Linked DNA regions of Homo sapiens. The protein of the gene in region 1 interacts with the protein of each later gene in a pairwise test. Each region holds a gene or a part of one and is shown in the gene's direction. Other genes may lie near its edges.

The links. Proteins that work in one complex are often made in the same cells at the same time.
Region 2: the proteins of TMED7 (region 1) and PA2G4 interact in binary tests that used the Homo sapiens proteins (3 or more experiments, as listed by UniProt).
Region 3: the proteins of TMED7 (region 1) and TMPRSS3 interact in a two-hybrid assay, tested with the Homo sapiens proteins (one large-scale study listed by BioGRID and IntAct).

The regions. Positions count from the first base shown.
Region 1 is NC_000005.10:115,622,226-115,628,017, reverse strand, and holds the start of TMED7 (transmembrane emp24 domain-containing protein 7 precursor), read left to right. Parts: upstream 1-1,981; 5' UTR 1,982-2,225; coding exon 2,226-2,417; intron 2,418-5,792. Other genes in the region: TMED7-TICAM2 (TRAM adaptor with GOLD domain isoform 1 precursor), read left to right, coding at 2,226-2,417. UniProt on the Homo sapiens protein: Potential role in vesicular protein trafficking, mainly in the early secretory pathway. Appears to play a role in the biosynthesis of secreted cargo including processing and post-translational modifications.
Region 2 is NC_000012.12:56,106,933-56,111,911, forward strand, and holds part of PA2G4 (proliferation-associated protein 2G4), read left to right. Parts: intron 1-57; coding exon 58-163; intron 164-254; coding exon 255-324; intron 325-588; coding exon 589-681; intron 682-2,297; coding exon 2,298-2,361; intron 2,362-2,924; coding exon 2,925-3,003; intron 3,004-3,466; coding exon 3,467-3,545; intron 3,546-3,626; coding exon 3,627-3,760; intron 3,761-4,031; coding exon 4,032-4,126; intron 4,127-4,249; coding exon 4,250-4,377; intron 4,378-4,543; coding exon 4,544-4,597; intron 4,598-4,979. UniProt on the Homo sapiens protein: May play a role in a ERBB3-regulated signal transduction pathway. Seems be involved in growth regulation. Acts a corepressor of the androgen receptor (AR) and is regulated by the ERBB3 ligand neuregulin-1/heregulin (HRG).
Region 3 is NC_000021.9:42,392,326-42,397,913, reverse strand, and holds the start of TMPRSS3 (transmembrane protease serine 3), read left to right. Parts: upstream 1-1,861; 5' UTR 1,862-1,972; intron 1,973-2,445; 5' UTR 2,446-2,496; coding exon 2,497-2,590; intron 2,591-5,588. UniProt on the Homo sapiens protein: Probable serine protease that plays a role in hearing. Acts as a permissive factor for cochlear hair cell survival and activation at the onset of hearing and is required for saccular hair cell survival. Activates ENaC (in vitro).

The DNA.
Region 1 (5,792 bases):
CATGGTGGAGGGTGAAGGCACAGCAAAAGCACGTCTTACATGGCAGCAGGCAAGAGAGCGTGTTCAGGGGAACTGCCCTTTATAAAACCATGAGATCTCATGTAGCTAACTACCTGTTATAAAACATGAACAATGTTTATAAACATGAATAATGCATTATACGTGCATTATATGTTTATAAACACAAATAATGCATTATAAACACAATACTGCTTTATGGGAAACATAAATGAATGGGAAGAACCCGCCCCCATGATTCAGTTACCTCCCACCAGGTCCCTCCCATGACACATGGGGATTATGGGAACTACAATAAAACCATCAGATCTCATGAGACTTATTCACTATCACCAGAACAGCATGGGAAAAATCTGCCTCCATGATTCAATTACCTCCCACCGGGTCCCTTCCGTGACATGTGGGGATTATGGGAACTACAATTCAAGATGATATTTGGGTGGAGACACAGCCAAACCATACCATAAGGATAACAGTCTTTAGATTTAGGGCCCACCCTAAGTCCCAGGATGACCTCATCTTGAGGGCCTTAACTTAATTACATCTGCAAAAGCCCTATTTCCAAATAAAATCATATTCACAGGGGTGGAGGGGTTGAAACTTGGACATGTATTTTTTAGGGGGACACAATTCAACTCACTGCACACATTTACATAAATAACACATCTTTTAATAAAAATATTTTCGAAATAAAAATTTAGCAAGAAGAGTGACCTTATTTTTGTAAATCTTTCATATCTAGATTTAAGGAAGAAGCTGGGTGCTCATTTCCTTTGATATTCAATCTGTTATGCTGTTTTGGTTGAAATATATAATGAAAATCCAGCTTCATACAGATCATTACATACCCTCTGAAAGGGTTTCAGGAGGCTTCTGGGGACTTCAGAGCAACACTTGAGAACCACTGCTCTAAAGCATATACTCCATAAATATATGTAAAATGGAATTTCCAGGCTGTGGCTACATATTCCAGGCTATATATATATATATATATATACATATATACACACACACACACACACACTGTATATAGGTGTGTGTGTTCTGTGTGTGTATACATATATTCTACTTTATTAGATAATGGCACATTGTTTTCCAACTTGATTAACCAATTTACTTTTTCACTAGCAGTGTATAAGAGGTTTTGTGGCTCTATAAGTCGACCAATATCTGTTATTGTTACACTTAAAATTTTTGCCTATCTTGTGGTATGTAATGTATTGATTGCACTGTGACGTTTAATTTAACAAAAGTTCATCTAGTGCTTGCTATGTACCAACCACTTCTAGGTACTTTTTCCAAATATTGGTACTTTGTAATAATTCTCTATGGTAGGTGCTATTATCTCCATTCTACAGATACACACTGAGGCAGAGAATTTAAGCAAGTGGCCGGACGTCACACAGCCAGTACGTGGCAAAGCAGGGATTAAGCACTCCTGCAGTCTGCTCTTAGAATTCGCGCTCCTTGCCCAGCTGCTTCCCCCAAATATTTATTATTACTTATGAGAAAACTCCGCAAATTGCAAAGCGCTCTACCACCAACGATTAGCACCCTAGGGCAAAATGAGCCCTTTACCACTCCCTAGATGCTCCCCAGCGCTAAGTTCCCAGCGGAGGTTGCAGTGAGCGCAGATCGCGCCACTGCACTCCAGCCTGGGTGACAGGGCGAGACTCTTGTCTCAAAAAAAAAAAAAAAAAAACAACAAAAAAAGCCAGTGATTGGAGCGTAATTACCCTCGCCAACCGCCTGTAACCACGGCGGCCGCCACGCCCCGTTTCCTGGTCTCGCCCCTCTCCGCCCACGACTCTGGCCCCGCCCCTCGTCCCAGGCTGCAACGGAGGCAGAGCCAACGCCTCGCGGGCTTCCACGTACGCACTCCAACGCGTGTTCCCGGAGAAGAACGCATCCGGGTCACGGGAGCCGGTGTCTCAGGCTCCGCCCCTTCACCCCCCGAAAGGCTAATCCCCACTTCCGACCCTCTCAGGCCTTTTCCGCTTCTCTTTTACCTCCCCAGGTCCGCCCGTCTGCGCCCCTCACAGGAAGCCGGAGGGTCGCTCTGATCCCGAATCTCCCACAGGCGTGAACCTGCTCTGCTGTGTATCTTTGCGGGGTGGCCTGCGCTGAGGCCTGCCGCGCGCGGTGAGTCCGCGCAGACCTGACCCTGCGTCTCGCAGCTCGGTTGAGGCCGCCGCCGCCTTCTCGGGATGCCGCGGCCGGGGTCCGCGCAGCGCTGGGCGGCCGTCGCGGGCCGTTGGGGGTGCAGGCTGCTCGCACTGCTGCTACTGGTGCCTGGACCCGGCGGCGCCTCTGAGATCACCTTCGAGCTTCCTGACAACGCCAAGCAGTGCTTCTACGAGGACATCGCTCAGGGCACCAAGTGCACCCTGGAGTTCCAGGTATCAGGGGCCTAGCAGTCCCTGGGCCCCAACTCGCGGCTCCAGGATTGGGGGTGTAACTTGAGGGATGGCACTTTCCTGTCCGTGTTTCCCCGTTCTTAGGCTAATTCAAAAATCGCTTCTAGGTAGCTGATGCCCAGCATTTGACTTTCCTCTAATAAACCTTGGGTGAGAGATGTTAAGACCGGGTGTTAAAATATATGAATTCCAGAAATGCTCCCTTTAGCATTTCTTTCCATCTCATTTTTAAGGCCTATTGAACTTTCTTCCTTAAAAGATTCCCTTAAAGAAAATCATTTATACTCTGTAGTACCCAGTGTCAACCCTCTACTCTCTAATCCACACCTCCAATTTAATTGGATTTGGAGTGCTGCCAATGTCTAACTTCATTGCTTTTCAGTTTTACCAATATTAGGACTGTTGGTTAATACGGTCCTTGTCATTGGAAGAGCTCCATTACAGGTTGAACGGCCATTTGCCAAGGGAGTTGTAGAAAGAATTGCTGTGATAAATGAGAGGCCCCTTCTGATATTTGGGATTATATAAAAAAGAAACTTTAACAGAATGTGGTTTATTCGGTTGGTTAGAACAGTCTTTACTGAGCTTCAATTTTGGTTGGTAGGCGCATTTAACATTTGAGTAGCTATTGAATACTAGGTGCCAGTGGTACAGAAGTGGTCGAAACAGATAGGGTCACTGCCATCATTCATGATTCCCCTCTCACCCTGCTTTTCTTAACTGGTATCTGCTCATTCATCAGAACTGTGCCTTAAGAGCAGTAAGTAGGATCCATGAAGGAAGACTTCCTTTGGAAAATTATTTTAAGCTGAACTTTAAAGGATGAGCTATAAACACCTTGGTAAGGGAGGAGGGGGAATAGCCTGTGGTAGTAGTGAACACTGAGAATTTCAGGGCCATAGAGAGAGGTCCAATATGGTTGGGAATAAGGAGCCAGAGCAAGGGGGTCAGCAGGGGCAGGCCAGATAGTGTCTTGCTGACCATGTTAAGGATTTGTTTTTCCTGAAAGTGTAGGAAGCCATCAGAGGGTTATAAGCAGTTCAGTGATATGACGAGAATATTCTTGGTAGCTGCATTAATAATAACTTGTGCAGGTAGAGAAGTGATGGTAAGATGTTGCAGAGCGGATGTGGAAGGCTGATTAGGAGGTTATTATGGTGGTCTAGACAAGAAATGATAGTGGCTTAGAGTAGAGTGATAGCAGTGGGGTAAATGAAAAGTGAAAGGATTGGAGAGAAGGTAGTAGGTAGAATCAACAGGACTTGGTAATGATTTGGCTATAGTGGGTCAGGGAGGGGAGGCCAAGGATGACCCTTAGGCTTACTTACCTTCATGGATTAGCACCAGGGGACAGAAAAGAAGATAGCAGGAATTGTGATAAAAAGTATAAGCCGACATTTTCTTTGTTTGAATTTAATAAACATTTCCTGGATTTTTGTGTATGCAGACTCAGTGATTAGTGCTAAGGATACTACTACAATGGCTAACAAATTAGCATCTGTTATGTGTAGACAGTATGTTAAGCATTTCAGGTATGTTCTCAGGAAAGCCCGATATGAAATTGTTATAGCTCTTACTCCTTTTTTACTGATGAAACTGAGGTTTAGATAGGCTAAGAACCAAGGGCATAAAACGTAGAAGTAGCTAAATCAGTAACGCAGTCCCAAGTTAAATTCTTAACCACTTTATTATACTACCTCCCAGAGACTGACTTTGATCTCAGAGAGCTTACACAGACATATATAGTCATAAAATGTTAAATGTGACAATAAAGGTACACACTAGGTATAGTGCTGGCAGGAGACAGAAGGATCATCAGGGGACATTTAGCTGAGGAGCTGATGTTAGAGGTGAGTCTGCAAGATAAGTAGCCGTTGCTCTACAAGGCGGCAGAGGAGAGAAGAAGGGGCCCCAGGCAGATATGTTCATGACAGTTCCAGCAGGCCTGAAATTAGCCTGAGCTATATTGCTAACATTTGTGCATGGCATTGAAAATACACTGAATAATAATAGTTTTGTGACTATAGTTATATTTATTAATAGTCACAAAACTATTATTATTAGCTTTAATATGAAGCTATTATAATAGCTTTGTGACTGTGAGTCCAAGGGCTTTGGGGGCAGTTTGTACCAGTTTGTCAACATTATTTATTGGTAACAATGAGATTGATGATTTGCTCCTGGTCTTCATGAGACCACACCCCCAACCCAGAGCTCTGTTGTTGAGACTAGCTGCGTAGCAGGAATATGCCTATGTGACCAGCAAAATATTTAAAAATGCAATCAGGACTCTATTTTGGGTTGCTTGGTTCCAGGGTGTTTTCTTTGCACACTTGGGTGGTTCCAGATCTGAGAGAGTATATGTCTGGCCACACACCTAACAAAGGGAAGCCGAAGGAGCCCACACCTGACCTTTTCAGATCTCTTGCTGTGAGGCAGCCTTTGGCTGTAATGTTTTATATTCTTTTCCTTTTGGGGCTCTTTTCAGTCCCAAGTTAAATTCTTAGCCACTTTATTATACTACCTCCCAGAGACTGACTCTGACCTCAGAGAGCTTACATAGACATATATAGTCGTATAATGTTATAAACTGTAGATTTATAACATAACCTACAGTAATAAACTGTAGATTTGCAAACACTGTCATTTTGATCCGTGTGATTCTTTAGCAAACCCTGTTGAACTGCACTGTCAGTGCAGATGTAAAGCAAAGACTTGTTCAGAGAATTTCTGGTAGTCTGGTATTTTAGGAACATAGAACGAGTAAGGGTGTGAATAAAAGAGGTTCTGAAGCTACCTGGGAGGAAGAACATGTGAATAGTATACCATTGTTAAGAGGTTTAGATTTGTCTGCAGGCCACAGGTAATTATCAAAAAGTTTTTAAGTGATTGCTCAATGGGGAATGAGGAAAGATGGGGAGATGGGCACCCCTTCTTCCCAGGAGACATTCGGCATCATTTTAGGAGAAGGGCAGCTACCTGCATCTAGTAGTTAGAGACCAGGTATGCTGTTTAACGTGTCACAGTGCACAGGACCATACAGCCTCCTACAACACAGAATTATTCAGTTCAAAATGGGAATAATGCGAGGTTGAGAAACCCTGAGTTCGAGGGAGAAGATATTGGGTAGTGGGAAGACCTTTTAGGAAGTTGTGGCAATAGTCCTGTCTGGATTGTGGTTTCGGAATGCGATGAATTTGAGAGGGGCAAAAAGATTGAGAGATTTGTGTGATCATATGGATAGATAGGGACAGTTAGTTTGGGATGATCCTCAGTTTCAATAGTAGGTGATTGGACAGGTTTAAAGGGATACTGTTAAGTGAGATTACTTGTTTTAAGTTTGATGGAAGAGAAGTG
Region 2 (4,979 bases), on another chromosome or scaffold:
GGCACTAGGGCTCCCGGGAGACAGCAAGGCAGTAGGCTGATGATTCTTTCTTTACAGGTATTGCTTTTCCCACCAGCATTTCGGTAAATAACTGTGTATGTCACTTCTCCCCTTTGAAGAGCGACCAGGATTATATTCTCAAGGAAGGTGACTTGGTAAAAATGTAAGGTTAAACCGTTTTAAAGCATTTTTCTTTTTTTAAAGCATTTACAAAATGCCAGTTCCTAATGCAGTACTCTGATCTTGCCTTTCAGTGACCTTGGGGTCCATGTGGATGGCTTCATCGCTAATGTAGCTCACACTTTTGTGGTTGATGTAGCTCAGGTAGGTGGCCTGCTTTTGATCTCTGTTTAGCCTTGGGGTAGAGGGAATGCACTGCCATTTGCTTCTTATCCCCACCCCCAATCACCACGTAAGTTGAGAGAGTCTCTAGAGAAGCAAAAGGAGAAAGGTTTTTGTTGTTGTTGTTGTTTTTACCCTCCTGTTCATTGGCTGGTCTTCGCATATGGGCTCACAGATATTAACCAGATAGCCAGCTGAGTTAACAGACTTTCCAGGAAGATACTGATTGCATGTCCTTATCTACAGGGGACCCAAGTAACAGGGAGGAAAGCAGATGTTATTAAGGCAGCTCACCTTTGTGCTGAAGCTGCCCTACGCCTGGTCAAACCTGGAAATCAGGTAAGCTATTTTATCCAATTCCAAAGCTCGTTTGAACCAAAGATGCATTAGGCACCTATAGCTACTCTATATGAAACTACCAACCTCCCCTACAGACCCCTTATAAAACAGCTTTTTAAAATTAGCTATATTTAGCTGGGCACAGTGACTCACATCTGTAATCCCATCACTTTGGGGGGCCAAGGTAGGAGGATAGCTTGAGGCTGGGAGTTCAAGACCAGCCTGGGAAACATGGTGAAACCCCATTTCTACAAAAAATACAAAAATTAGCTGGGCGTGGTAACATGTGCCTGTATTCCCAGCTTCCAGGGAGGCTGAGGTGGGAGAATCACCTGAGCCTGGGAGATTGAGGCTGTGCTGAGCTATGATCATGCCACTGCACTCCAGCCTGGGCAACAATGAAACCCTGTCTCACAAAAGAAAAAGGAAAAATAAGCATTTGCTGTCCCCACAAAACAGATTAGAATGCCAGGTAAAAAAGGATAAACACTGGACTTAATATTATAGGCATGTGGTGGCACATGCCTGTAATCCCAGCACTTTGGGAGGCCAAGGTGGGAGGATTGCTTGAACCCAGGCATTTGAGACCAGCTTGGGAAACATAGCGAGACCCGTCTACAAAAAGAAAAAAGAAAACCCAGGTTTATGACCAAGTTCTTTCACTTAACACTCATTTAACCTGGGGCAAATCATTTAACCTGAGACTCAGTTTCCTTGTCTTCTAGATTGGGATATACATCTGCCCTGTTCACATGCAAAATTTATTGAGTTAGACCATCTTTGTGAAAGCACTGGGTAAAATGATATGCAGTTACAGCTGGTCCTCAGCTTGATGCTACATTCAGTAGAAGCTATACTTTGAGTACCCATACAACCATTCTGTTTTTCATTTTCCATATAGTATTTAGTAAATTACATGAGATATTCAACACTAATATAAAATAGGCATGTGTTAGATAATTCTGCCCAACTGTAGGATAATGTTTTTTAAGTGCTCTGAGCACATTTAACATAGGCTAGGCTGTGATGTTAGGTAGGTTAGGGGTATTAAATGCATTTTTGACTTAGTGATATTTTCAACTTATGAGTTTTTTGGAGATGTAACCCCATTGCAAGTTGGGGAGCATCTGTATAAAGTATTTTTAGATTGTAGGGATAATCAAGCTATGAAATGAAAAACCAGTGAATGACAATCATTGGGGCTTGATGGAGGATATTAGAACGCTCAGTTCTGCCAGGTGCAATGGCTCATGCCTGTAATCCCAGCACTTTGGGAGGCTGAGGTGGGCAGATCACGAGGTCAGGAGATCGAGACCATCCTGGCCAACATGGTGAAACCCCGTCTCTTCTAAAAATACAAAAATTAGCTGGGCGTGGTGTTGCGTGCCTGTAATCCCAGCTACTCAGGAGGCTGAGGCAGGAGAATAGCTTGAACCCGGGAGGCAGAGATTGCAGTGAGCCAAGATCACGCCACTGCACTCCAGCCTGGTGACAAAGCCAGACTCCATCTCAAAAAAAAAAAAAAAAACGCTCAGTTCTTTTATGCTTCTTATTCTCATTGTAGAGAACTTATTAGCTCCTGATATCTCACCTTTCATTTGATGTTGTACTTCTAGAACACACAAGTGACAGAAGCCTGGAACAAAGTTGCCCACTCATTTAACTGCACGCCAATAGAAGGTGAGAACAGATAACAGGGTTGAGGGTCTAAGAATGAGTGGCTTTGCCAGGTGCGGTGGCTCACGCCTGTAATCCCAGAACTTTGGGAGGCTGAGGTGGGCGGATCACCTGAGGTCAGGAGTTTGAGACTAGCCTGGCCAACATGGTGAAACCCCGTCTCTACTAAAAATATAAAAATTAGCTGGGCGTGGTGGTGGGTGCCTGTAATCCCAGCTACTTGGGAGGCTAAGGCGAGATAATCGCTTGAACCCGGGAGGAGGAGGTTGCAGTGAGCCAAGATTGCGCCACTGCACTCCAGTCTGGGCAATAAGAGCGAAACTCCATCTCCTCCATCTCAAAAAAAAAAAAAAAAAGAATGAGTGGCTTTGCAGAATTGAGGCTTTTGCTCCCTTGAAGATCTATCCTGGCTATAACCCAGTCTAAGCCAGAAATCTCAGAGCCCTGTGTTTCCATAACCAGGTAGTTGTCTCACTGCCTACCACTTCAAACTACTGAAGTGGGTGGATTTGGAAACCTTTTGGGATACTGGATAGCTTGTTCCATAGGTTGTGTACTATCTACAGGTATGCTGTCACACCAGTTGAAGCAGCATGTCATCGATGGAGAAAAAACCATTATCCAGAATCCCACAGACCAGCAGAAGTAGGTGCCAACCCTACTTATTACCTTCTACCACACAAGACTAGTCATCAGGTTTTTTTCTATACTCCCAACTGAATCTTGTCCGCCCTCTACTCCATGTTTTCAGGAGTGACCTGTTGCTCTTAATATTCCCTTTCTCTAGGCCGGGCGCGGTGGCTCACGCCTGTAATCCCAGCACTTTGGGAGGCTGAGGCGGGTGGATCACCTGAGGTCACGAGTTCAGAACCAGCCTAACCAACATGGCGAAACCCTGTCTCTACTAAAAACTACAAAAATGAGCCAGGCCTGGTGGTTTGTGCCTATAGTCCCAGCTACTTGGGAGGCTGAGGCAGGAGAGTTGCTTGGACCCGGGAGGTGGAGGTTGCAGTGAGCTGAGATTGTGCCACTGCACTCCAGCCTGGGTGACAGAATGAGACTCTGTGTCAAAAAAAAAAAAAAATTCCTTTCTCTCTATTCCTTTTAGGAAGGACCATGAAAAAGCTGAATTTGAGGTACATGAAGTATATGCTGTGGATGTTCTCGTCAGCTCAGGAGAGGGCAAGGTGAGGAGAGTACCAGAGTTGGCAAAGAGGGGTGACTGAGAGTGTTCACCAGACCAAATGTTACTTAAATTACTCTTTCAGGCCAAGGATGCAGGACAGAGAACCACTATTTACAAACGAGACCCCTCTAAACAGTATGGACTGAAAATGAAAACTTCACGTGCCTTCTTCAGTGAGGTGGAAAGGCGTTTTGATGCCATGCCGTTTACTTTAAGGTACTAAGCAATGATAGTACTTGGAACCAGTCTGACTCACAGACCATACACCCAGGAACACTTTTTCCTCTCCCTTCCTGCCTAGACTTGTAGCGTGCATGTGCTCACTCCCTCCCTCTCTCTCCCCATCTCCTTCTCATTGAAGGTAATGTAAAAGAGCAATCCTAAGCATGATTTCTGCCTGAGGGTAGGAGCTATTTTAAAATATGAGCAAAATGGTAAGACTTGATGGGGAGTTAAAGATACCTCTGAATATCATCTTCCCTGCCAGAGCATTTGAAGATGAGAAGAAGGCTCGGATGGGTGTGGTGGAGTGCGCCAAACATGAACTGCTGCAACCATTTAATGTTCTCTATGAGAAGGAGGGTGAGTTCCAAAAAGAGCTTCACTTTGGATTCCCTGATTATAAGATATCCTTCCTGTAAGTTCAGAAGAGCTAAGTATGACAAAGGAACTTTTTATCAAAACACATCTTCATTTTTGCCATAGGTGAATTTGTTGCCCAGTTTAAATTTACAGTTCTGCTCATGCCCAATGGCCCCATGCGGATAACCAGTGGTCCCTTCGAGCCTGACCTCTACAAGTCTGAGATGGAGGTCCAGGATGCAGAGCTAAAGGTTAGTATGGAATAGAAGGTGGTGAGTATGTACATGGTATCCTGCTTGGGAGTGAGGGCTAAATGCCAGCAAAGTCCTGAAAAGAGCTGCAGTACTGAAAGTAACCCTTTATTTTTAATTTCCTCCACATTTCTCAAAATTTTTTTCCCTTCTTCCTGTTTTCCAGGCCCTCCTCCAGAGTTCTGCAAGTCGAAAAACCCAGAAAAAGAAAAAAAAGAAGGTGTGTTATTAACGATCATTCCTCTCTGGCAGGGTGAACCTGATCCCTCTTTCTCCCACTGTGTTAAGTTGTAGTGAAATACGGATTTTTATACAGATGCTCCTCAACTTATATGATAGAACTTTGTCCCAGTAAACCCATCATAAATTGAAAATACTGTAAGTCAAAATGGATTTTAAAATATATATATATATATTTTAAGAGACAGAGTCTCAAACTCCTGGCCTTGAACAGTCCTTCCACCTCAGCCTCCCAAACTGTTGGGATTACAGGCATGAGCTGCCATGCCCAGCCTTGCTTTGGCCGGGCACAGTGGCTCATGCCTGTAATCCCAGCACTTTGGGAGGCTAAGGCGGATGGATCACCTGAGGTCAGGAGTTTG
Region 3 (5,588 bases), on another chromosome or scaffold:
CAAAGGCAAACCAGAGCCCTTCCCATGCCCCTGGGCCTTGGGATCTGCCATCGGCTATTCCCTGTTCCCTGCTTTCTAGGCTCACGGCCCCTCTTGGGGTTCCTCAAACACTCCAGCGTGGCCCCTATTCCAGGCTTTGGAGCTGGTGGTCGCCCTCCTTGGAGGAATTTCACAAGACTCACTTCACTGGTCACCAAGGTCTCTACTAAAACATCATCAAGGTCCCTGCTGAAACAACACTCTCCCTAGAGGCCGTCCTGTACCACTCTGCCCTCATCTCTCTCAGACCCTCCCCGGCCTAATCTCTTCCTAGCGCTTAACATCTGGGGCCCCATGGGAGCACTTTGTTTTTCTTGCTGGCTGCACTGTGTCTAGAGTCTGGCCCATGGCAGATGCTTGCTAAATATTTGCTGAATAAATGCATGGATTTGCGAGTTGCCATCCACAATGGTAAATTCAGCCCTTCAAAGATGCTCAGCGCTCTGGTCCCCACAGCAGCGGTTAAACCCCTTTAAGCAGTGCTGTGTGCAGAAGCCTCTTGGGATGCAGAGGCCTCCGAGGAAGGAAACATGACGTGTCTTTTGTGGAGCGCAGGCTGTGATGAGCATCTTCAGGCTCCCCATCTTTTGTCTGCAGGAGTAGCTGCAGAATTGAACTTGGGGGCTCAGTTACAGGGAGGGACAGAAACCCCCACCAGAGAGTATGTCTGCCCTCTTGACGGTCACATGCTCAGCACTGGGCAGAGCCTACCCCTTCTTTCAAGTAAAAGGAGCGGCTGTGTTCCGATCACTCCCTGATGCAAAGCTTCTGAAAAGGTTTGCTCACCTTACTGACTAATTAAAGGGAAGCCACATTTTTCCCTCCCTGGTCTCTGCAGCCATACCACCAAGGGCTATTTGATAGGCCCACGGCAGCTTGGGTTACACAGATGCCCGCGATAATGCCATTTGCTGCGATGATTGAGTCGACAAGGCTGAGTGACTTGGGGAAAATATTCCCCGATTGGACTAACCTGTTGGCGGCCTGCTTACCATCACACTTGTTTTTATAATGAAAAAGGAAATTATTTCTGCTTTTAATGATGGCAGCTCCAGAAATGGTGAGTAAAATGGGTGTGAGGAGAGAAGATGCTTCTCAACACTTCTCAGTGTTGTACAGCTTGCCAACCACAGCCTGTTTGGGAGGGGATGTTCTCACCCAGGTTCCATCTTTCAGAAGCCATTTGCCCACTTATTCTTTTTATATGGATAAACGATGTAATTTGCTACATGCTGATAATAAACAGAGGTATCAGCAAGAATGAAAGCCAGAAAATGGCCCAACATGAACTTCTTGCTTTTCTAAGTTACTCTTTCAAGCTCTTCTTGCGATAGAAATGAAATGAACATTTTTGGCACAGAACTCTTGTTTAGATTTTACTATGATCTTGGGAAACACGGGTTGCTTCAAATGGCTTACTAGATCCCTTTGGAATTTCAAACGTTACAACAGGTAGTCACAAAGGGAATGAAAGCGGATGATCTGAGTGTCTGTGCTGATGTGCCTGCTGGAGCCCCTGTGGATTTTAGCCCTTGGAGGAAGCAGGTTCCCAGAGCAGCCATGCCTGATATCTGGGAGAGGGAACTAGAATTTAATTGGGAATCTTCTGCTATTTCCCTGCTTCCTCCGCCCTCTCAGAGTTACAGGGAATGACTTAGAAAGGTCTCTGGTCTCCTTGGCATTGTGATAGGTGGAATTCTTTCGTAGGAAACACAGCCCCGGGGTTATTTTGATGCAAGCCGTTGGTCCAAAGCCACTCCCCACTTTGCTATGTGGGGGAAGGACCGGGCACCGGACGGCTCGGGTACTTTCGTTCTTAATTAGGTCATGCCCGTGTGAGCCAGGAAAGGGCTGTGTTTATGGGAAGCCAGTAACACTGTGGCCTACTATCTCTTCCGTGGTGCCATCTACATTTTTGGGACTCGGGAATTATGTGAGTACCGAAACTACTTATGCTTATGGTAGGTGTACCACACGCACAGGGAAAGAATTGCGTTTATGTGGGACAGGTGAAAACAATCGCAAAAAAGCAATGGAAAGGGCTTTGAGAGTAATTTATCTTCTGAACAATAGCAATATGGCAACTTCTAAATGGTGAGAGGGAGTCCCTCTAAAGCAATCGATTTGAAGATTGGTTGGACAAACAATGGGAAAGTCATTGTCTTAGCAGAATTAAGTTCATACTTTTTTTTTTTTTTTTTTTTTGCTAATTCTAGAAGCTTTTCTGTTATCTGCTGTAGCTCAGACGAAAATGCATTCTCACCAGATGACTGTTTTTGGTTAATCGATACTGAATGCGCTTTGTGTGGACTGTCGAATTTCAAAGATTTACCGTATGACCAAGATGCACCTGATGCTACAAGTATAAATAGGGGAACAAATGCTTTCTGTTCTTCCTCGGCTAAGGAGGTAGAGGTGGAGGCGGAGCCGGATGTCAGAGGTCCTGAAATAGTCACCATGGGGGAAAATGATCCGCCTGCTGTTGAAGCCCCCTTCTCATTCCGATCGCTTTTTGGCCTTGATGATTTGAAAATAAGTCCTGTTGCACCAGGTAAGTGGACCCAGGTGAGGACTCTGTGATTTCTGCCCATACCCTCATGTAGGTGACCAATGTGACTGACTGTCCCTGTGGGGGAAATATCTCCCCAGCCATTCTGACACCCACAGGCTGGACACCTGCACTTCCCTAGATCTGCAGAATCTCAGGGAGAAGGGGCATTGGAGAGGGGATCGTTTCGTTAAGCCCTTTGCTCTCTCCCTGGAGACCGGTGTTTTCTTCTCTTGTTGGAGGTTTTCAGAGACTGGGGCTCCACAATTGTCCTGTCAATCCTGAAGGAGGTCAGATCCTGGCCAGGAAATCTCTGAGTCCTCCAGGAAGTCCTGAGAAGCAGTGGCCACCAGTCCCTCCGAAAACTCAGGATAAACTGGATGTCGCCAAAGATATTAGAGGCCTAGATTAAAATCCAGCAGCAGATGACGGAGTGGCTCCTAACAACTGAAGGAAAAAAGTTGGTTTCGTAAATAAGTCACAAATGCCTGATAAAACAGTGGACTCTCTAGCAACCTATACGGCTAGGATCTTTTTGACCAGAGATAGTCAGGACTGGTCAAAGGGAGCTGTGGGGTTGCCGGTTCTGGAAGTCAGGGCTTGGACGCAGGCAGATTCCTGACACATTGGTGCTAGGGAGGAACCACAGGAGCTCTGCCTGAGGTTCCAGAAAGTGGGAGTGGGGGTCACCCTAATGATTTCTTTTAAACCAACTGGAAAATTGGCTTGGAGGAGGTTTGGAAAGGATGGGAGGTGGGAGAAGAGGTTTCAAGTAACTGAAAAGACACACATTTAAAAATATGGCTCAAAATTAGCTAAGTGTCAATGAAAGAAAAAAAAATCTTGCAATCACCTGACTCCCAAAACTTACCTGGTTTTTATGTCTGCAAAGTCTCTTCCTGCTTTTGCCCGTATGTGTGGTTTCATGCACAGTACAGATATAGGCAGGTGGGTTTTTTCCATAAAAGGTTTTTATAAATTTTTTCTTATGGAATCACAGTATTCCATCAAGTAGATATGCAATTTACACAGCCATTTGATCATAGTTTGACCTATAGTTGTTCCTAATATTTTATAATATAAATAATATGAATATTAATAGCACTATAATATTCCTTTCTCTTATTTTTTGATTATTTTGCTATGACTAAGTAGTGGGGAGGAACAAAAACTTTTCCTTGTAAATAGAGTAATGTATTGTTCATTAGAAGAACAATTTAGAAAATACAGTTCATTGAAAAGATTTTTAAAAATTACCCACGACGGCATCATTACTCAGAGATAATCCTATTAGCAATTTATTATTGAATTTCTTGCCTTTTTCTATCTATATATCTATATTTCCTTTGGAAGTAACATGTACTATTTGTATTATTTTGAAGCTTTTAAAAAATTTTAACAATATCACCTTCACCTTTCTATGGCATTAAATAATTAAATATTTTCTAGATGTTGACAAACTATGGCTGATGGGTCAAATCTGGCCCACCCCCTTCTTTTGTAAATAAAGTTTTATTGGAACACAGACATGCTCATTTGTTCACATACTGTCTGTGGCTGCTTTCACGCCATAACAGCAGAGTGGGGTCGTTAGGACAGACCGCATGGCCCATAAAGTTTAAGTGCTGTATTTACTGTCTGGTCCTTTACAGAAAATCTCTCCAACCGTTTTCTATATCATCTTGTCCTCCTATAGGTATTCCATTATATGTGTACCTCATTTGTTATTTCACCCGTTCTTTTTTGTGGGTAATTTGGTCCGTTTCCTGTGCATCAATATTATAAGTGCCATTCTTCTAAGTGTCCTTGGGGGTCGATATTTGCGTATATCTATGGTGACATTTTAGGATAAATTCCTAGAAGTGGAACTGCTAGGTCAAAACTTTCATCTGTTTTTGAGCTTTCCGGTGTCTAAGTTTACACAGCTGGGAAGTTTACACAGTTTCTACCCCTGTGACTGTAGGTGGGGGACCATTTCCTTTCACTTCATGTGAATCATTGTGAAGTTGGCATGTAGTTATGTCTCATTTGCATTGTTTTCATTTCTCAAGAAGTTGAAAGCTTTTTTTTTTTCTTTTTCTTGAGACGAGGTCTCGCTCTGTCGCCCAGGCTGGAGTGCAATGGCGTGATCTCGGCTCACTGCAACCTCCAACCGCCCGGGTTCAAGCGATTCTCTTGCCTCGGCCTCCTGAGTTGCTGGAATTACAGGCACATGCCCCCACACCCAGCTAATTTTTGTATTTTTAGTAGAGGCGGGTTTCACCGTGTTGGGCAGGCTGGTCAAGAAGTTGAAAGCTTTTTCATACTTGTGCGCCATTTGCATTCCTTCTTTGGAGAAATGCTGTACATTTCATTGTTTATTCCAGGCAATGTCCTCAAGGACCAAGCACAGAGGAGGCGTGGGGCCCCTGCAGTGCCCTCAGGGCAGCCTGACAGAGAAGCAGGGCAAACGGGAACTGACACAGCCTTTCGATTAAATGTCAATCTTTGATTTGACAATTTGGGGTCATTTTCTAAATCCAACTTAAATACAGAGCAGCTGGAATGTGAAGATGTCATTCCTGGGGTTCCTGCAGATTTCTAAGTATAAGACGAAGGGTGGGCATCCTTATAGAGGAGAATTGTTAGTGTGCGGGGGATCGAGGTGTGAGGGTGGAGAGAGGATCCTTTCTGCCAGCTCACCACCGCAGATGGGCTGTCCTGGAAGGACTTGGTCTCAGACCCTGAGTTAAAACGGCCTTCATTATCATGATGTCATTCATTCATCTAGCACATTTTTATCAAGGACTACTGTGTGTCCCCTGCTGTTCTAGGTATGGATAATGCAGCTTCAACAAACCACTGAGCTTGTCCAGGCCTAAAACACAGAACTTGCCACGGTCTCTCATCCTCCCTCACTCTGCGTTCCTCACAGCCTCCACATCTGCGAAGTGCAGCTTCTATTTCCCTGCTCTTCCTCCATCTCCTGCTCACCCTCTCCTCTGCACACTCTTTTCTCCTC